Regions from separate parts of the Homo sapiens genome. Here region 1 is linked to region 2. The links come from fine-mapping of genetic effects on gene expression. A gene starts in region 2. The other region holds a variant in brackets. All regions are shown on one strand. Distances are between the middles of the regions. Region 1 overlaps PDIA5 (protein disulfide isomerase family A member 5). Region 2 holds the start of ADCY5 (adenylate cyclase 5).

The links.
Region 1: its variant is fine-mapped to the expression of ADCY5 in esophagus muscle (GTEx, PIP 0.97).

Annotation. Positions count from the first base shown.
Region 1 is chr3:123,143,737-123,154,404 of GRCh38, forward strand. It overlaps PDIA5 (protein disulfide isomerase family A member 5), which reads left to right. Exons shown (of 17, transcript NM_006810.4): 12 at 1,786-1,856; 13 at 2,363-2,523; 14 at 6,498-6,628. Among named protein-coding and RNA genes, the nearest start is that of MIR7110, 13 kb to the right of the region's middle. RefSeq lists an enhancer at 10,392-10,668. The variant G/A (reference allele first, on the strand shown) is at 5,237.
Region 2 is chr3:123,443,937-123,454,604 of GRCh38, forward strand. It overlaps ADCY5 (adenylate cyclase 5), which reads right to left and starts at 5,154. Exons shown (of 21, transcript NM_183357.3): 1 at 3,476-5,154. The coding sequence starts at 4,609. RefSeq lists an enhancer at 3,316-4,215.

The DNA of each region.
Region 1 (10,668 bases), 300 kb before region 2:
TTGTGGAGCCTCCCACTTGAGGGTTAGCAGTGTCTCTCTTCCTTGGATCCACCTGGGAAGAGCTGACATGTTGATGTGGCTAAGCACTGTAGCCACTCCCTGGGCTGCATTCCATGAGGGTCAGTGCCCTTGACCGAGTCATGTCTCCAGTGCTCTGTCCAGAGGAGGAGCTTCACAACACTGCCTGGGAGCTCAAGGATCAGTTTGGTTTTCTGTTATCAGTTAAGTGGGGAGTAGCCACTCCGGGGTCCCTTGTCCCTGGGAGGGACAGGGTGAGGATGAGCTGAGGAAGCCAGGTACAGGCAGGAGTGAAATGGAGAGATTAAGAACGAGACAGGTTCATGTCTCACCTGGAGCTGAGTTCTGCAGAAATGGCCTTGGAGGAGGAGACAGGAGCTTTCACCCCTGCCGGGTGCTCAGCTGGAGGCAGGAAAGCCGATTCCGTAGCTCAGTGGGAGGTCTCCTCTGATTACACTGTTTGACTTTCTGTCTTGCTTTCTTCTTGTCTTTCTTTTTCCTAACAATCAGTAGTAGAATTATAGCGTTCTCAGCTCCCACACAGTGGCACACCCCTGAGAAGGTTGAGTCACGACCTGTCATCCGCTGATCCTAGTTAATGCATGGTCCCCGCACAGCCAGGCTTACCTTCTGAGCAGCCTCCATCCTGAGCCAGTCTGCAGACCCCTCACCTCCCAGTCCCTCCAGCATCAGAGGCCAGAAAGTACTCTTTCTATTAAAATGAAAACAATGTACAAATGTCAAGGTCTGTCATTTACACAAAGTGCTTAATTTCTTTTTAATGCATCAAATTTTATTATTTCTGACATCTTACTGTGTTCATGCAGCTGTAAGAAAAGCACAGAGCAGGCTGGGCGCGGTGGCTCACGCCTGTAATCCCAGCACTTTGGGAGGCCGAGGTGGGTGGATCACGAGGTCAGGAGATCGAGACCATCCTGGCTAACACAGTGAAACCCCATCTCTATTGAAAAAGTACAAAAAAAATTAGCCGGGCGTGGTGGCGGGTGCCTGTAGTCCCAGCTACGTGGGAGGCTGAAGCAGGAGAATGGCATGAACCCAGGAGGCGGAGCTTGCGGTAAGCAGAGATGGCGCCACTGCACTCCAGCCTGGGAGACAGAGCAAGACTCTATCTCAAAACAAAAAAAAAAGAAAGAAAAGGACAGAGCAGTTTCTATCCCAAAAAATTCCCATCATGTCATATGGGGACAATTAGAATGTAATTATGTCCCATACTTATGCTTCTGTGAATTTTTGTGCCCAGCTCAAGGCCTCAGACTGCCTTCTGTCCAGAGAAGATGATGATGGTGATCACAGCATGGTGCCACAACCTACACGCTGCCTGCAGCTAGGGCCTCTCACCAGATGGTTGGGTTTTCAACCCAGCTCTGTGACCATGGCTGTGTATATGGCCTTGGGCAGTCACCTGCCCTCTTGGTGCCTCAATTGTCTAATCCATAGAATGGAGATAATGTCAGTTCCTACTTTGTGGGGTAGTTATGAGGCTGTAAGGCACTGGTCAGTACCTGGCACACCAGTTGCCCGTATTATTTATGCAGTTGTTTTATTTTTGTGTCTGGGGTACCTTCCCACTACCCCAACCCACTTCTGGTGGATTATGCAAAATATTTCTTTTCTTTGAGCTGGTGCTGCTGCTGCTTTTCTCAGGTGTCTGGGAATGGGACTGAGCTGCCTTACAGAGGCGGCGCAGGGGAGCATCCCGAGGGCCTCTGTGCCATAAGAATGGTTTCTCTTGATCTCTCCCCACAGGGTGTGGCCACTGTAAGAAAATGAAGCCGGAGTTTGAGAAGGCAGCAGAAGCCCTCCATGGAGAAGCGGATGTAAGCTTCCTTTCCTTCCCCCTCACCGTTCTCTTTGAAAGAATCACTGACAGGTGGAATCATTATGACTTTCCCCTGCAAGCCCTGCTGCAGCTCCCGTGGTCCGTGGAGGCCAGCAGTACCTCTGTGTGCCCAAGTAGAACATCTTAGACAGATGGGATCCTAGAGGGGGCAGAAAGACTACTGGCCCATGTTCCCGTGCCCATCCAGGTGACCTCTGCCTGCTCCCTCTTTTCTCTGGGACCCTGGCTAACAGGAACAGGTGCCAATCTACTCAACGTGGCTGGTGGGGCAGATTCAAAAGCCTCATCTCAGCTCATAAATGAGAAATGATGGCCGTGCCAATGTTCAGTTGTTCCCTGGGATATGGGAGCCCACTGGGCTAGCCACCCCAGTTAAATTCCAGCAGGTCCAGGATGGGTTGTGGGGGCAGCGTCTGGGCTCCTGTGTTCCACCAGCACCGCATCTGAGGCTGTAATGCATGGTTGGCCTTTCCCCCATCCCAGAGCTCTGGTGTCCTTGCAGCTGTCGATGCCACTGTCAACAAGGCCCTGGCAGAAAGATTCCACATCTCAGAGTTTCCTACGTTGAAGTATTTTAAGAATGGAGAGAAATACGCAGTGCCTGTGCTCAGGACAAAGAAGAAGTTTCTCGAGTGGATGCAAAAGTAAGTGTTACGATCTCAGTAGCACATCCTAACTGCCAGCTGGCGGCCCCTGGAGACCACCTTGAGGAGGTGAAGTAAACTTTATGGTCAATGTCCTGGGCTCATGCCCGTAGGAGTCAAGACGGATCTGACTTCCTCAACCCTAAAACCACCGTTCATATGCTGATCACGTGTCTTGATCAGGTCACTGCTGGCAGTCCTTCTGGACGCAGCTTCATCGACGCACTAAACCGTGTGTTGCTTTTTCTCTGTCTCAGCCTCCTTAGGCCCAGATCTTATTGTCTGCATTTTATTCCACTCCCTTTGAATAAATGAAGGAGACACAGCTCTTCATAGCCAGAGCTAGACTCATTTCGTCCAGGTTTGCTAGTGGTTGGCTGGGCCTCCAGTAATGTCCACAGGGCAGGCTATGGTGGTTTGCAACTGAGGATAAAGATTTTGAAGAGCCCCCTCAGCCTATGTATTAGTTTGCTAGTGTTGCCATAACCAAGTAACAGACCAGGTGGCTCAACAATATAATATAACAATATAACAGAAGTTTATTTTCTTACAATTTTGTTTTGTTTTGTTTTGTTTTGAGACAGTCTCACTTAGTCACCCAGGCTGGAGGCATGATCTCGGCTCACTGCAACCTCCACCTCCCAGGTTCAAGCGATTCTCCTGCCTCAGCCTCCCAGGTAGCTGGGATTACAGGCACATGCCACCATGCCTGGCTAATTTTTTGTATTTTTAGTAGAGACGGGGTTTCACCATGTTGCCCAGGCTGGTCTCGAACTCCTGAGCTCAAGTGATCCACCCGCCTCAGCCTCCCAAAGTGCTAGGATTACAGGCGTGAACCACCATGTGCAGCCTATTTTCTTACAATTTTGGAGGCTAGAAGTCAGAGATCAAGATGTTGGCAGGGTTGGTTTCTTCTGAGGCCCCTCCCCTTGGCCATCTTCTGCCTGTGACTTCCCATGGCCACCCCTCTATATGTATCTGTGACCTAATCTGCTCTTCTTATAAGGACACCAGTCATGTTGGATGAGAGCCCACCCTAATGACCTCATCTTAACTGAATTATCCCTTTAAAGGGATAATTTATCTCTAGATATAGTCACATTCTGAGATAATGGGGGTTAGGACATCAACATATGAATTAGAGGGGGACACAGTTGAACCTATACGGTCTGAGCTACTTTGTTAGGACATCAGTCAGATATGAGGTGTTTATTTAAAGCATAGACTCTGAGACTCTTTTATTCAGGAAGTGTGAATGGGACCCTCAGCCATGGTGTTCTAAGCAACACCAGCTTGTGGAATGGCAGCAAAGTTGCCACTAGATTCAGGGGAGGCCTCTGGCAAGAGATGAATGGACTGATGAGATCCTGGCCTCAGCTTCTCCCACTTTGTCCTGCTCATCCACTGGGAGGATTTGGAAAGTAGCTAGGCCTTTGTCTTAGGGACCAGAGGAAAATGATGGTTTGCCTCTGAAAGGCACAAGGTGCTTGCTTACCCCTCAAGGCCTTCTGGTGTCTGAAGTAAGTGGCTTGTTCACACCCACTTTTCCAGCCTTGCTCTGGTGCCAGGGCTGGTTCACTGGAAAGGACTGGGTGGGGCGGGGGATCTGGCCAGGTCCCTGTGATGCTTGGACTTCTGGTTAGAGAGCCGAGGGAATCCAGAGTGTCGATCATCACTAATCAGTGCTCCAGAGTCTTGGCCACAAACAGCGAGCATGAGGGGCCTCTGTCCTTTCTGTGTGCCACTGCTGCTACTGAGAGCCTGAAAAGCACTCAGGCTAAGTGCTTTCAGGTTTAAATACTTTCTTAAGTGCTTTTAGGTCAAGAGCATGGGCTTTGGAGTCTGAGAGACCTGGGCTGAGATCGTGACCCTGAGCCATTTCTTTGATGCCTCTAAGCCCCAGTTTCCTATCTGTAAGATGGAGACAGTAATTTCCCCATAGACTTGTCTAGGGAATTAAATGAGACTCCTGTGAAAAGTGCTCAGCACAGGACATGATGTGGAAGTACTCAAAAAAGTTGAAACTGGCCGGGCACGGTGGCTCATGGCTGTAATCCTAGCACTTTGGGAAGTAGAGGCAGGAGGATCTCTTGAGTTCAGGAGTTCAAGACCAGCCTGGGCAACATAGTGAGACCCCACCTCTACCGAAAATCAAAAAAATTACCTGGGCATGGTGGTGTGCGCCTATAGTCCCAGCACTTTGGGAATCTGAGGTGGGAGGATTGCTTGAAGCCGGGAGGTTGAGGCTACAGTGAGCTGGGATGGTGCCATTGTACTCCAGCCTCAGCAACAGAGTGAGACCCTGTCTTAAAAAAAAAAAAAAGGTTGAAGCTATTTTTATGACTGATTGTGGACTTCTCATGACTGACAGTATCAATACATAAGTGATCACAGCAGCCAGCCTTTGCAGAATGCTCTCCTATCTCTTGCTCCATTTCATCCTCAAGTCCTGCTGAGGCCAGAGTTTTTAATTCCTATTTCATTGGTGAAGAAACTTAGGTTCAGAGAGGTTAAGGGCCCTATCCAGGGACAAATAGTAGTTCTTCCGGGAACTTGGAGGGGATCCTTCAGGTGGAGTGTGAACAGCCGATGGCTCGGGGGTGGAGAACTGAGACTCGTCACCCAGAAGCAGGGCGAGCAGACAGCGCCAGAAAAGGTGGATGGCATTTACAGGCAGGTGCATAGGCTGCCAGGCTGTGGGTAACTGAGATGC[G/A]CCTGCCAGCAGGCCAGCCTGGGGAGGCAGTGTTCAGGGAAAAGGCAGAGCAGAAAGGTCAGATGAGTGGTGTCAGCCATGGAACCAGAGAAGCTGGAGGACAAAGACAGGGAGGAAGGCTGGGAGGGGCCCGTCTTAGTCACCAGCACAGGAGAAGGTGAGAGGCAGGGAGACTGATTTGGGAGGAGGAGGGAAGAGTAATGTGTTCTAAGTCATGGTGGATTTGAGGTTACAATGGGACTTCCAGCTGGAAATGCCTGAAAAACACCTGGAAATAAGGAGCTTGGATGAGAGGTGAGGCCTTAAGTTCTTCTCAGCCATGGAAATCACTGGAGCCATGCAGAGGAATGAGATCTTTGAGAATTGCAAGGGCTCAGAATAGAACTGGAAGCACAGAGAGGGCTGCACTCAGCTGGTGCAGGGGCTGTGGCACAAGCCCAGTGGGAGACGTGGCAGCGTGGGTGTAGCCCTCTCCCCAGAAATACTCCCAAGAAGGGGAGCTGAGTTATAGAGAGGGAAGCAGGGGAGCAAAAGCTATTGCAAGACCCTGGAGATCCATCCTTGCATGAGGCAGAGTGGAGGGACCCAGTGGACAGCAAGAGACTGAGAAGCAATAACATTTATCCAATGCCTGGCATTTATTAGAGCATCTAGGCTCTCAGTAAATATTAGTTCCTTGACTGAGTAGATGCTTTTCATACATTCTCTGCTCTTCATAAAGATCCCATTGTCCTCATTTAACAGAAAAGAAAACGGAGGCTCAGAGGGGTTTAGTAACTTACCTAAGGTTGCACAGCTGGTAAGTCATCTGGACTTGAACCCAGGCCCGCCTCACTCCTTGGCCCATGCTCTCCACCAGAACAGAAGCTGAGAACCAGAAGATAATGAACGATCATGTAGGGTCCTAGAGGGGGCAGAAAGGAGGGGCCTGGGAGTCCAAGCAGAGGTGCCTCTATGCTCTTGTCAAGGAGTTCGTGGCCCACAACTGGGGGGGCTGCCCTGACCTGAAATGGTGTCAAGTCTTCCATATTTTACAAAATGGCTCCTTAATGGGCTCCTCAGAGGGAATCAGGGAAGGTCTTTGCTGGTGGCACAGATTTGTTTGTGTTTAAACTGTGGTTTTAAAATGAAATTTTAGAAGGATTGTAGTGGTTTCTTCATGCATGTTCCCCCGAGTGGTTGGGACATTGAGGGTGGATTTCCTTGCCCATCTAAAAATCTCTCCTTATGGCTGCCTCCCCACTCCCCTGGCTTCTTGCAGCCCTGAGGCCCCCCCGCCCCCAGAGCCCACGTGGGAAGAGCAGCAGACAAGCGTGTTGCACCTGGTGGGGGACAACTTCCGGGAGACCCTGAAGAAGAAGAAACACACCTTGGTCATGTTCTACGCCCCTTGTAAGTAGCTTGGGTGCTCACTGAGTGGCACAGTAAGAGGGGTTTGGCCCCACCAAACCAAAAAGACCCGCACACCCACCCCAGGGACCAAGGCAGCCGCTGATGGATCCCAGGGTCATCTCCATTATGAACCAGGCTCTCCAATTTTATTCCAGGCTAAGAGGTCCTTCAAATCCAGGGCCTCCTTTTGTCAGACTCGTCGGGCTCTCCTTCCTTTGGGGCAGCCTTTCTCGTGTCTGTCCTAAAGCCCTCTGCCTCTGTGCTCGTCCCCTCTTGTCCCTGGGCTCCTCCATGCCCCTGTCCCCTACCTGCACACTTCCCACCCCTCAGCTGTCCCCGCCCCCTCTTCCTTCTCCAGACACTGACTTATCTTCAGCACCTTGGAACCCCCTCTCCCTGCCCTTCCAGATGGCTCTGGAGCCGTGGCATAGGCACAGCCACATTCGCTCCTGAGCTCCTGTGCTGTGCTCGTTTTAATCAGAGCTCAAGCTGAGGAAGTGACACGTCTGCCGACATTGGCATCGGTGACCTCAGGTTTCTGTGTATTCCCATTTTGAAGTTGTTAATTGATACTTACAATGAAAGGTTCTTAGAATTTCCCACTCTCTGCTGCCCTTCTCTCTCTCCCCCAGGTTACAGCTCAGCTTAATGGAGTGAGGATAATAAAAGCTGCAGTCTACAGAGAAGCCAGGCAGCTCCATCTAGCCATAAACCTGCTCAGTTGTAGCTGGCCCTCCTGTTGGCTCCCCCGTCCCCACCTTTCAAGTGTCAGTAATCCGTGGAGTCTGTGTGTTCTCAGGGTCTGAGAGGGGCCGCCACAGCCTCAGCCCCTCCTTGAGGCAGCCTCCCTGCCCATCTCTTTCTGCCTTTCCTTCTCAGAGTGGGACTTGTCCTCTCCCAGTCCCTTACAGAGCTTCCGGCTGTCCTCTTCGGTCTGTAGAGTGTGCCCAGAAGCCTGAAAATTTTCGGGAGCTGACATCTTCCCTCTGGCATTAGGGGGTGGAGGACTGAGCCTTGCCCAAGGCCATGGGGCAAGTTAGTGGCAGGCCCCTCCCGCAGCCTGGATGGCTCTCTCTATGTCACAGGCACAGTCCAGAGAGTGAGAGTGTTTTCAGCAGCAAGTGAGAACCTGGCTGCAGGAGTGGAAGCCCTTGACCAGACGAAATACTTTCCCCCAGACCTCTGGACCAGAGCCCAGTGCTTCCTCTGCCTCTCTTCAGCTCCTCCCTGACTGAGGGGCCTTCATAGCAGACATAAGCCCCCCGCCACCCTGACCCTGGCTGCTGGGACCGACAGGTGCTTGAATCCCCAGGGAATCTGGGAGAGACTCTTACCCTTTTGGGCTGCCAAAGATCTACAACTCCTTCCTTCCTGCCTGCCTGCCTGCCTGCCTGCCTGCCTGCCTGCCTGCCTGCCTGGCCTGCCTTCCTGCCTGCCTGCCTTCCTGCCTGCCTGCCTGCCTGCCTTCCTGCCTGCCTGCCTTCCTTCCTGCCCTCCTTCCTTCCTGCCCGCCTTCCTGCCTGCCTTCCTTCCTGCCTGCCTTCCTTCCTGCCTTCCTTCCTTCCTGCCTTCCTTCCTGCCTGCCTTCCTTCCTGCCTGCCTTCCTTCCTGCCTTCCTTCCTGCCTTCCTGCCTTCCTTCCTTCCTTCCTTCCTGCCTTCCTTCCTGCCTGCCTTCCTTCCTGCCTGCCTTCCTTCCTGCCTGCCTTTCTTCCTGCCTTCCTTCCTGCCTTCCTGCCTTCCTTCCTTCCTTCCTTCCTTCCTGCCTTCCTTCCTGCCTGCCTTCCTTTCTGCCTTCCAGCCTGCCTGCCTTCCCGCCTGCCTTCCCACCTGTCTTCCACCTACCCATCAAATATCAGCTCTGTGCTGTGCAGTGTCTAGGGCCCAGGGTACAAGGGAGGGAGACATGTCCCTGCCAGGCCTTGAGGGGCTCACTGTCTACCCTGACAAAATTCTAAACACAATCCATCCAGGGCAGGGTCACTGAGTGACTCAACCTCTGGCAGAGGGCTTGGTCCTTAGAGTTTCTTCATTTCTGTTACTGCGTTTTTCTGTCCCTAAACCTTGCCCCAGGGACATACATCTTTATCAGTGGGTTACAGGGGGAAGACTTTCCAAGGACAAAAAAGATACATCTTTTGACTTTTTAATAATGAAAATAATAATACCTATTTTTATATATAAATATGGCATATACTATATACTTTTTATATATGAAGGATCTAAACACTACAGAAATGTCAAATAGTAAAGTCAAATGCCTGATAGAGGTCTAAAGGAAAAGCAGCATACCCACACGTTCCTGCTCCCCTTCTAGCTGCCTCACCCCAACATCTTACCTCCCCTCACATCTCTCCACCTCCCACATCCCTTCTCCCACCATGTCTGCCCCTGCATCCTGTCTCCCCAGCTTCTGCACAGCTCTTCCTCCTGCTGTTTCATTGTTCCTTTTACGCTGAATGGTCTGGTCATGGTGACTGCCCTTCTCAGGCCAGCTTGGCGGAGTCTCTAGAACTGCAATTGTCCAGCCTGTCCTCAGTCTTTGTTCCTCTTTCCCCACTCTGGGAGGCGTCTTTGGTTTTCTGCTACACAGAGGCAGTGCCTTTTTTTTTTTTTTAAGCCTACATTAAATAAAAAAAATCATCCACATCTGGCCCTCCTGACACCTCTTGGAAGCATCTTCATGCACTTTCTGAAACAGCCCTCCCTCCCATTACTCATTGGCCCCACTCTTTCTTTCGGATAATGAGAAAATTAGATGCAACAGAAAGCCATTAATCTGAGGCCTAGATATTTTAAATTGATGGTAACAGGAATTTACACTAGGCTGACAGTTACCTTTAGACTTTCAATGAACAAAGAGGTTAAAAAGGAAAAATTAATAGTGAAACCAGGTTTTGAGGAAGGGGGGTGGTTATTTTCGCCAGCCTAATGCTATTATGGGCATAGGCCACACACAAGGGGCCTGCAGCTGCCTGCAGGAGCTGTCTGTGACATACCTTGTTAACCAGTAGATTGCGCTCTTTAAGTGTTTTGAAAATTTTATAACATCATCCCTTTATAGTGTGACATTTTCATGAATTTGAGCTATTTTTCTTTCTGTTATGTCAAATTAGTGAAGTGTTACTTGTAATTTCCATTTTAGGCTATTAAAAAATCATCCAGTCTCTGCCATGAGCTAGGCTGTGCTAGGCACATTGCTAAGCTGTGCTTGTCTCATTTCTGATATAACCCATCACTGGCCCAGGTCTCTTCTGCTCCTTCTGCATGAGACTTGGCAAAGCCCTCTACACCCCCACCCCCCATCACCCCCCACAATGCTCTGGGCCAGCTGGCCACTCTGCCAGCCAGGCCATGTGGGTGGTCCTGCTCATCTCAAGACTGGCTCAAGGACTAAATTCAGATTAAACTTGTAGCTTAGCCTTAATTTGGTTTCACAAAACCCTTTGAAATGCCAGTCATTATTATCTTATTTTAAAAAGGAGAAAGTAGATGAGCAAAGCCGTTTCTGTTCCCACCGTGGCATCTCTGCCTTCCCGAGGCTGAGGGAGGCTGGCTGACGTAGAGGTGTGGGCTGGAGCCTCCCCTTGCTCAGGGAAACCCTCCCCTCAGAGCCCTTCTGTGCCCTGGACAGTTCTGTTCACCAGTGACTGGGAAAGGGCTGAGAGAGGAGGGGGGTTTGGGTTCTGATCTGTTAGTGCTGAGGGAAGGGCTGGATCAGCCTGCAGCTCCTGGGCTCACCAGGACAGGAGGAGAAAGTGGCCCCCACAGAGGTCCCTACCCTGCTTCTGAGACACTGAGGTCAGAGTTGGGGCTCAGGGTGATGCCCAGAACAAGAGACAGATGCTGGAGGTAGGGGCCCCAGTATAGCTCAAAGGCCTTAGGCTGCTCTGACAAGCCTTCTCCCTGGGACAGGGAGCATCAAGGGACCTGAGGACTGCCTGGTGACTTCCCGTAGCTCCTCTCCCTCTTACCCTGACCATGGCCTTCCTGTTCCTGGCTTTGAGGTTCTGGTTATTGTAGAGCAAAGAGTAGATGGAGA
Region 2 (10,668 bases):
TGGAGTGCAAATGACCACCCCACCCCACAGGGCACAACGATACCTTCTCCAAAATAATCGTTAATAGCTAAGCATATGTAATAGTTGTGTGAGCATGCTTGTTTTTGTGTGAGTGCGTGCAGAAGCTTTATGTAGCAGAGTGGGATACAGTCAAACAAAAATGAGGTTGCCATGGCAACAGGCTCCAGCATCATTGCAGCCTATTAACACAAGTGAGGAATGTGTTTGGCAGATGCTCCAGTGTTATTTATGGTATGGGTGTAGCAGAGGGACTTCTAACAGGCAAAGGAGGAGAAAAAAACAACCCCGTGACGCTCCTACTATACCCCAGCGAGGAGACAGGAGTCGACAGTGAGACAAGAGCACAGCAGAGGCTGAGAGGCCTCGAACAGGGAGGGAGAGATGGGAAAGCAGAGCCTGCAGGAAGGCAGCAGAGAGGTGAGGTGGGCAGACAGTAACAGGGATCAGAGGGAGAGGGAAGAGAAAGGAAGTCAGAGAGGAAAGGAGCAGGCAGAGAGAGAGAAGGAGCCGAGGGGGAGGGTGACAAACACTATGGACAGAGCCAGAGGGATGGAGAAGGGAAGAAACACCATCCCACCAAGAGGGGCTGTGGCACCTTGTGTCCTGTTCCTCCCTTGAGTCAAAACTGTCAGGAGCCACTGGTTAAGAAACCAAATGCTTCTCCTAATTGGAGCCAAGGGCAGAGCCCCACACATAAGAGAGGCTGAAGAAGAATAAAATACACAGGTCAGATAATGATGTTGAGGACCTGAGTAAAGGGGGAGAGGTCCAGCCTTGCAAGAGGAGCAGTGAAGAAATGCCAGTCCAGTTTACTGAGGGCCTACTATGTGTCCAAGCCACCGAAGGGGGAATTCCCAAAGCCCCAACATAGGAACTGCTCATTGCCACCCATTTCCCTGGACATGTGTCTCAACAAAGAAAAGAACAAGGCATCTAATCCCAACCACTCTTACATGCCTGCTGTTCTGGAGTAACCTGAGGCAGAGGTTAATGCTGGACTTCCCCCACCAGCCAGCAGGGTTTGCTCAAGAAAGACAAATTTTATATGAGGCATAATCAAAAGGGTAAATCAAGTACAAACAAAAAAAGATACAGTTTTCTCTGAAGCCAAATAGAGGAAATGTTTGCATTCCCTTGTCTTGAACCACTCATAACAAGCTCTGCACCACTCAGGGAAGATCATATAAAGTAAGTGTAAATCCACCCAAAATCCTACAGCCTTGCAAAAGTCTAAAGACCACAGTGGGTAAAAGAACAGGGTAGGAGCCAGTGGGGGTGGGGAGAGAAGGGAGAGGGATTTGCCTAAGGAACCAGAAGGAGAAGTCAGTCAGACAGACACTCTGTTGCTGCAATGGTATTTTCATGCTAAGGTGGAATTGGGGCCCCCCCCAAGGCTCAGCACCCCTTTCCTGGGATCTGACTCCAACCCCCCTCAGGAGAAACCATACCTACAGCTGTAATCAGACCCTGTGTCCCAAGTCTGGTTCACAAAATACCCTGAACTATCCTGAAAATCTCCATATGGATGACATGCCCCTTCCTCTGCAGAAAAGCTACATCCACCCAAATCAGGAGCAGTCCCCAAAGATACAACAACCATCTGAAAGCACGAGTCCTCGGGTCAAAAGAGTTGGGGCTTTTATAAGCACTAACAATGGTAGTAACTTTTAAACCACCACCTCTCAAAAGTCTTCTGCAAAGCTGGTCTCTAAAGATTTTTTTTTTCTTCTCATCTCAGATCTGAAAAAACTTTTAACTTAGCATCAACAGCCCCACTTACTCCATTCACTGGACCCCAACTATATTGGCAAGCAGTTATTAAATCCCTACTAAGTATTCTGCACTGTGCTTAGGTAAGGGTGAGAGAATAGAGGAGGAAAAACACATACACCTTGGGATTTGTGCATCCATGGAGGTTACACTGGACAGACAGCAAAACAAGTGGACACTGGAAAATGAATAAGTGCTCCACTCTGTGCCTCTGACTCTATTGTTAATCATACAGAAGACCACGAGGTCAGTGTGGCTGGAATGGAAGAAGAAGGTTCCTTGCAGGGGTACAGCTTGGGGCAGAGGACGTTAGAAGTGGAAGGGACATAAACATTCCTCTCATTCTCTAGAAAAGGTAGCAAAGGCCCAGAGAGCTTGTGTGTCCCCTCCGTCCCAGTCACAGAGCACCCTGCAGGTTCAGCTAGAGCCCAGAGCCCTGAAACCCATAACAGTGCTATTCTCTATGGAAGAATACTATGTCCAGGAAGCCAGGGGACACAGGAGAGCAACTCAAGAAAGATGCGGTACTCAAGAGGATAAAAGTCTAAGAGAAGGCACTAGAAGAGGGGAGACAGAGGAAGGCAATGACAATGGAAAACCCTTAAGAGGTTCTATTCGAGAAGGCAGACACCAGTGGGCAGATGTGTGCACTGGGGTCCAAGGTGAAGAGACTTGCCTGTAGCAAGGGCCCAGTGGACTCTCACAGTGGAGCAGCATGCAAACAAGCAGGTTCAGAAGCAATCATGGATGAGGACCAGGAAACCAGACCACAGGACACTAAAGGGAGATATGGTATGGATGGCAGGGGGGCTCCTCTCACCCTGAGGTCAGGATAGCCAACATGCCCCTCTCACAGAAGCCTTTAAGAGAGTCACCAGCTAACCAGGCAAAAGTTGTATTTCTTCCTGAACCTGCAGTTCTAGACTCACCCAACAAATCCCAGCAGGGATAAAATGTCCCTACCACAAGCAATGACCAGGGGCACCCACTTGAAGGGGTCATGATGTTCAACAACAGCTTTCTGCTCAGGCCGGAAGGGGAATTGCCACCACACACATCTCGGAGGCTCCTTCCCACTTTAGCGAAGGGCAGGTTTTTGGCTTGGGGCGCTCTGCTAACTGAAACAAACTTGTCAGTCCTTCTGCAAGTTCAGGGATATCTCCAGCTACCAAATCCCCAGCCTTAGACAGGTGGCAGGCTCATGCTACCTCCTCCTTACCACTGAGCAAGGGGTGCAGGGTGTCCCCTCACCAACCCTCTATCCAGGGCTGGATTAACAAAGCAGCAGTGGCACTCACGAGGGGGTGGCTGCTAGAGGGTCCAGCCACTTTCGTTAGGGGCCTTTTGTATATAGGAACAGAAGCTCAGGAAGAGATGGGAAACACTCCTTATAATTTTCTCCTCCAACCTTCCTCACTGCATTCCCACAGTGATGGCTACAGTTCAGTACACGTTATCTAAGGGGCAAGGAACACTGCAAACGACACAAGGGCACTCTTTTTGTAAATGAAGCCGCTGGGGCTCAGAGTGGGGTAAGAAGCTCCCAAATAGCCTACATGGCCGAGCCCTGTCTCTCTGGCTCTTTTCACCATTCGAAAGGGTGAGGGTGGGATCCCTTTCTTTGGAGTCCAGCTGAGGCCTGCCCGCCCCGCAATCCAGTCCCGGTGGCCAGGTCGGCCCCTACCTGCTTCAGCAGGAACTGGTCCTGGGCGTTGGTGCGCAGGGCGATGGCCAGGTGGAGGGCGGACAGGAGCACCCCGCTGAGCACTGCGGCCCGCATGCGCACGGGCAGCAGCGTGTAGATGGTGTAGATGAAGAACACGGTCCACCAGATGCCCTCAGAGGCGCTGCGTGGCTGCGGCAGCAGCAGGCCCACCACCTGGACGGCCAGCACCACGGCGATGAGCGCATAGCAGGCCAGGCCCATGTGGTCCTGGTGGAAGGCGGCGCGGTTGCAAAGCACAGCCATGATGAGGATCACGCCGACGGCGGCCGCCAGCACGGCCAGGTAGGGCAGCTGGAGCGGGGGCCGCGCCGCGTGGAAGGCCAACATGACCAGGCACACGAGCACCAGCACGGCCATGAGCATGGTGAGGCTGCTCTGGTTCAGGCGGAAGAAGTAGCGCTGGTACAGCCGCTCCAGTTTGTCCGACGGGAACTTCTTGGAGCGGAATATCTGCAGCAACGCCAGGCAGCAGGCGCCCAGGGACAGCACCGCGCCGGGCCCCGCGCCCGAGCCCGAGTCCGCCGAGCTGCCGCCATCCCCGGACCCCTCGCCGCCCTCGACGGCGCCGGCCTCCAGCTCGTCGGCCGCGCGCCCCTTGCCCCGCCGCTCCTCCAGACCCACCTCCACCGAGCGAGGGCGCACCTCCGTCCCGCCCGCCGAGGCAGCCGCCGCCGCCGAGCCGCCGCCGCCGCCCGCAGGGGGCGCCCGGGTGCTGCCCCCGCTGGCCGCGCCCCGCCGCTGCCGGCGGCTGCCGCGACCGCAGTCGTCGCCGCCGCGCTCCTGCCAGGCGGACTTGGAGCGGAAGCTGAAGCCGAAGCCCCCGGCCAGGGGGTCGTCACCGCTCAGCGGAGGATCGTCGTCGTCGTCGCTGCGCCAGCGGCTGGCCAGGCGCTGCTGCTGCTGCGGGGTCACCGCCCCCCCGGGTTTCTTGGTGGAGCCGCGGGCAGAGCCCCCGGGGGCATGGGGGTAGCCATTCGCGCGGGAATCGGCCTCGCCCCACGCAGAGCGGTGTTCGGGGCCTCCCCGGGGCGCCGGCGCCGCAGTCTTCTGCGCCGCGTAGCCCGGGGGGCTCACGCTTTTGGAGCCGGACATCCCCCCCTCGGCCTCGTCGTCTCCTTCCTCCTCCCCCGGAAGCCGGGCCGGGGGTCTCCAAGGGGAGGGCGGACGGCCGAGCAGGGGGACCAGGCTAGGGTCACACGTCGGGGGCGGCCCGGGGCCCTGCGCTGCAGCGGGGCATCTTGGCACCCCCGTCCTGAGCGGAGGAGGAGGGCACAGCCCCGAGGTGAGAAGTAGCTGAGGATCCGCGTCAGAAGTCCCAGGTCCGAAATGGAGTTGCCTCCGAGGTGGGGTCGCAGGGACTGGTCTGGCTGCTGCTGCGCCGCACGCGGAGAGACGTCCGGGATCCTGGCTCGCGTCGAGCTCGACGAGGGCCGGAGTTGCGGACGAGACGGGACGGAGTGGTGTCCTTGCGGGCGGTGCCTCCTCGGGCCGGCAGTGCCCGGGCGCGGCGCTCGCTGATTCCGCCTAAGCGGAGCCCAGCTGCTCTCGGGGCTCGGCGGCGGCGAGGGCGGCTCGGCGGGGGTCCCGGCGAAGAGACACTGCGGGTGCGCTTTCCTCGCAGCGGACTGGGAGCGACTGGGAGGTGCGGGCGCCAGCCAGCATTATTTTCTTACGAGGGGTGGGGAGGTGGGATGGGAGGTGGAGAGGACGGGGGAGGGGGCGACGGGCGGAGCAACAGCTCCGGAGCCCCGGGGGGGAGGGTCCTGGAGCCCGGGGGGGCCGTTGCCCGCATCCCCCACCTCTCGCGGCGAGAGTGGATGCGTGGCCCCGGCGAAAGCCGAGCCGAGCCTTCGGCGCGTCCGCGCAGGGGGCGGGGTCCGGGTCAGGGACCGGCTCCTGCGGTGCGGCCCTTCCCCTCTCGCCTCTCCCTTTCCCGCAAACGGAGCGGGGCCGGCCGGGACCTGCCGGCCCGGAGAGCTGTCGCGCCCGCTTCGCAAGCCCCAAGCTCCTCGTCGCCGGCTGCGGGCCCACCGCGGCCGGCGCGGAACGACTAGGCGGAGGACGGAATCCGGCGCAGCGCTGCCGCGGTTCTGCCCCGACGCAGGCAGGCTTCTCCCGGGGAGTAAGGCATCCAGAGATCCAGCGCCGGGGCTCAGAAGCAGCCGGCCCAGAGGGGCCCGCCTGAGAGCCGCGGCGCCCGAGAGGCGCTCCGGGGGGGCCCGCGGGAGCCCGGCTCAGGGCGCGCCATGCACGCTTCGGGCCCTGCGCCGCTCCGGCCGCTCGCGCCGCTCCTCCCTTCTCGCCCGCTCGCCGCCGCCGGAGAGCCCTCCGCATCCCCTCCTCCCGCTGCCTCCCCGCCCCCCGCGCCGCCCGGGCCTCGGCTCACAGCCGCGCGAGGCCGCCTCCGCCCCCGGCCTGGCCATGGCCCCAGCCTCGGCGCCCCGCGGGCATCCTCAGGCCTGGCCGCGGGCACCCCAGTTCCCCTTCCTCACCTAAAATTCTCGCTGCGCCCCTCCCTCCCTGGGACTAGGAGCCGCATCCAGCCTGCGGTCCCGTCACCAGACCTGGGTGGAGCGCGGTCTTCCCCCGCCCCCGGCCAGGGCTCCAGCGCCCCCAGTCCTAGCTCCCCTCTTTTGTATCCCCCTTTAATCCCCCTCCCCCCATTTAACCCAACTTCAGCCCCGGCGCTGCGCCCCCCTTCCCTGGCCCGGCTCGATTGGCCGCTTCCGGAGCTGTCAGACTACAGTCCGGCGCTCTTATTGGGCGATTCTCTGGCCCGGCGGCTGTGCCAAAGGAGGGCGCACCGGGTGGGGGGCGCCTGGGCAGCGAGTGCCTCAAGGAGAAGGAGAACAGAGTCCCTGGAGGGGTCTCAGGGGCCGGAGAGCCAGACCCGGAAATGGACAGGGGAGATGCAGAAACAGGACTTCTGAGACGCAGGAAGACAGTGATGGAAAAGATGGTGATGCAGTGGGTGAGGCCGATGCAGCCGGGGCGGGGCGGACAGGGAGGCTTTGGTGGGTAGTTACCAGGAGAAAGCCCCACAGTGAACACTGGAAACACCTGGCTTTTATAAAGCGCTCTTTGCCTGTTCGTAAAGTCTCATAAATCTCACTTGGTTCCCGTCAGTAATCCTAGGATGAGACAGAGGACAGAGACCGTGTAGCTATTCCCAGCTTATAGATGCAGAAACTGAGGCTCTGGGAGCTTATTCAACTTGCTATAGGTCACACAGGTCTACTAACTTGGCACCCAAAGGTCCTTCGTCAGCGCCAGACTGCCTCCCTAACCTAACAAGGTGTTAGCAGGAAGGATGGGCACCTGAGCAAGCTGGCGTGCCCACTTGGGGGGAAGCAGGGGAAGGGGAAAATGGCTAGATACACAGCACCAGCCACAAGAGGCAGGAATGGAGAGAAGGATTCGACTGCTAGGCAAAAAGGACGTAGGCCTGTAGAATGATGTGTCTACCCAATTCCCTTTGCCCCCAAGCTGTCCTGCTGGAGTTCTGACAGTCTAAACCCTGGAGAGGTGGGAGACCACACTCCTACCCAGCCTGGGGGTAAACAGCTTTTACTTTCCCCTTCTTCATCCTCCAACTCTCTCCCCAGAGCTTCTGACAGGGAGCCTAGAGGTCTAAGTGAGCTTCCTTCTTTGTCTCTCTCTGCTGGTCATCTCTGCAGACTGGAAGATAAACCTTGCCAGAGTTACAAATTGGGAGGAGAAAAATTCCAAGAGGTCAGAATAAACTAACCCTTGGGTAATCCAGCCTTTGAGTATTCCACTATTAGCCAAGTTGTAAAAAAAAACATGAATTTAGTCAATAAAAATTCTAGAGAACCCTCAATGTACAAAGCATTGTGCTAGTTGCTACCAGGATAGAGAGATGACCAAACTCTAGACCGGGAACAAGTCGAACAAGTCAGTGACGGAGAAGAGCTAGCCACTATCTCTAGGTCAGAGCAAAGTTCTGGGTTCAATAGAAGTGCAAACAGCACCTCGGGCATTCAGAGAGAGGGGGTGTCACTTCCCACTGTGAGGGCCAAACAAGGGCCTGGAAGTCAAACCTGGGTCTAGCAGGGAAGGATGTCTAAGAAAGGGAGGATGGACTAATTAATATTTACTAAGCAACTGTTGTATGTCTGTAAACATTTTATTGTCAGATAACTATTCTGAGGAAGGTTATCCCCACTATAAAGATGAGAAAACAGACTTAGGGAATCAAAAAGTTTGTCCAGCCAGGCATGGTGGCTCATGCCTGTAACCCCAGCACTTTGGGAGGCTGAGGCAGGCAGATCATCTGAGGTCTGGCGCTCATGACCAGCCTGGCCAACATGGTGAAACCCGTCTCTACTAAAAATACAAAAATTAGCCGGGCGTGGCGGTGTGAGCCTGTAATCCTACTCTGGAGGCTGAGGCAGGAGAATCACTTGAATCCGGGAGGTGGAGGTTGCAGTGAGCCGAGATCATGCCATTGCACTCCAGCCTGGTTGACAGAATGAGACTCTGTCTCAAAAAAAAAATAAAAAATAAAAAGGCCGGGCATGGTGGCTCACGACTCTAATCCTAGCACTTTGGGAGGCCAAGGCAGGCGGATCACGAGGTCAAGAGATCGAAACCATCCTGGCCAACGTGGTGAAACCCTGTCTCTACTAAAAATACAAAAATTAGCTAGGCGTGGTGGTGTGTGCCTGTAGTCCCAGCTACTTGGGAGGCTGAGGCAGGAGAATTGCTTGAACCCAGAAGGTGGAAGTTGCAGTGAGCCAAGGTTGCACCACTGCACTCCAGCCTGGCAACACAGCAATACTCTGTCTCAAAAAAAATAAAATAAAATTATTTATATATATATATATATATATATATGAGTTTGCCCAAAGCTCATAGTTGTAGCAGTCTGCTCGTTGTATTCTACCATGCAGCAATGTAGCAGATATGACATGGGTGGCACCCTCAAGACATAGTCAACTGCACGGACAGGGGCCACAGGGCCAGAGGTATCAAGGCTATTGATCAAGGTTCCATCCTTGATCCTCTCATCTTCTCATTCCCAGAGCTATCCCTAAGTCATTCCTCTTAATTTTATTCAATTTTTAAAAATAATTGTCTTACAACAAAAGCCATGTATGATTGATGTGGGAAAAAAATTAAAAAGAAAGAAAACACACTCATAATCATATCACCAAAGAACCAGTATTGGCCGGGCGCGGTGGCTCACGCCTATAATCCCAGTACTTTGGGAGGCTGAGGAGGGCGGATCATGAGATCAGGAGTTCGAGACCAGCCTGGCCAACATGGTGAAACCCCATCTCTACTAAAAATACAAAAATTAGGCAGGCGTGGTCATGGGCACCTGTAATCCCAGCTACTCGGGAGGCTGAGGCAGGAGAATCACTTGAACCCGGGAGGTGGAGGTTGCAGTGAGCCGAGACTGCACCATTGCACTCCAGCCTGGGTGAAAGAGCAAGACTCCATCTCAAAAAAAAAAAACCAGTATTAATATGTTAATTTTTTTCTTAAACAATAACTGGATCTTTTACTCTACAATTAGTTTTAGAGTCTACCATTTTCTACTTAGCAAAATATTGTGGATTTTTTTTCATGTCAATAAGCATCCATCTACAATATCCATTTTACTGTCCAAATTGCATGGGTATAGTATACTTTATTTAACCAATCCCCTACTGTTAGGCATTTTTCACTGTCATAGCAGTTTATAAATAAAAGTTTCCCCTCCTTTACTATTATAAACAGTGAGCATTTCTGTAGATAAATTTTCACACAAGCTGGGCACAGTGGCTCACATTGGTAATCTCAGCTACTCAGGAGGCTGAGGTGAGATGATCTCTTGAGCCCAGGAGTTCGAGGCCAGCCTAGGCAACATAGAGAGAATGCTGTCTCAAAAATAAATAAATGAATAAAAATTTACACATATCCTTAGGAAAAATTCCTACAAATAGAATTGCTGGGCCCAAGGATAAGCATGTTTTTTTCTCTAAGATATTTTTGAAATCTGTATCTTCAGCCCTTGCCTCCCTTCCCAGTTCCAAGCTTCCCTCTGGCTACTGGAGAGCTCCCCATCGATGCTCCTTGGGACTCACCAGATCCCAAATTCACTGTTTCTGAAAATAAGGTCATCTCCCAAGTAGCTTGCTCCTCACTCCCTTTTCATGCTGCTGGTGGAATTACCTTCGTCCAAACTCTGTGATCTTAAGAGTGATAATATCTCCTCTGCCTTGTCTTTTCGCATTTGTCTCTTCTTCCACATTCTCTTACCACAGCCTTCATCCCGATCATCCCCTTCCTTGCCTGGATAATTGCCAACTCTCCCTCCTTGCCCTCAAATCTGTCCTCCGCCTTGTCCTCATCTGATCTCACTCCCACTGAAATCATGTCCACAAAACAGCCTGTTCCTACCTGCCAGCTTTCACTGTGAGTTCACCACCTTCCTGTCACCCAGCCCCCATGAACTGCTCTTGTGCCTCTGCAGAGATAACCCTTTTTCCTCCACAAATCAAACTCAGCACCTGAGGGAAGCCCTCCCTAATACCCCTCCCCTCCCTCCACCCCTCCCCCATGCCAATAGGCACTCCCTCCTCCTCCTCTGCCCCCAGCACACCTTGCTTATATCTATTATAGCACCTGTCACATTGTATTATCTTGACTTGTTTACGGAACGGTCTCCACAGTCTGCTGAATGCCTTGAGGGTAGAGTTGGGATCTTATTCCATGCCCAGTGTTTAGCCTGGTGCCTGGCACATAGGAGGTGCCCAATAGTTGCTGGATAAACACATGGCACATCTGGGGAATGGTAAGCAAGATGGAGTCTCAGGTATATGTAGGGGAGGAGGACTTTCGACAGTGGGTGAAGATGGACAGGTGAGTTGAACTCTGGAACATAGTGCCGAGGAGGTTGGGCTTCAGTTTAAAAACAATAAGGAGCCCCCAAATTTAGGGACAAAAGTGTCCTGGTTCATTCTGTTTTAAGAGGCAAACTGGTGATAATGTTACTACATTCAAGAAACAAGATCCCTGTAATCCCCGCACCTTGGGAGGCCAGCGCAGGAGGATCGCTTGAGGCCAGGAATTCAAGACCAGCCTCGGCACCATAGCTGATAATAGTGAGACCCCATCTCTACAAAAAAAATTTAAAAATTAGC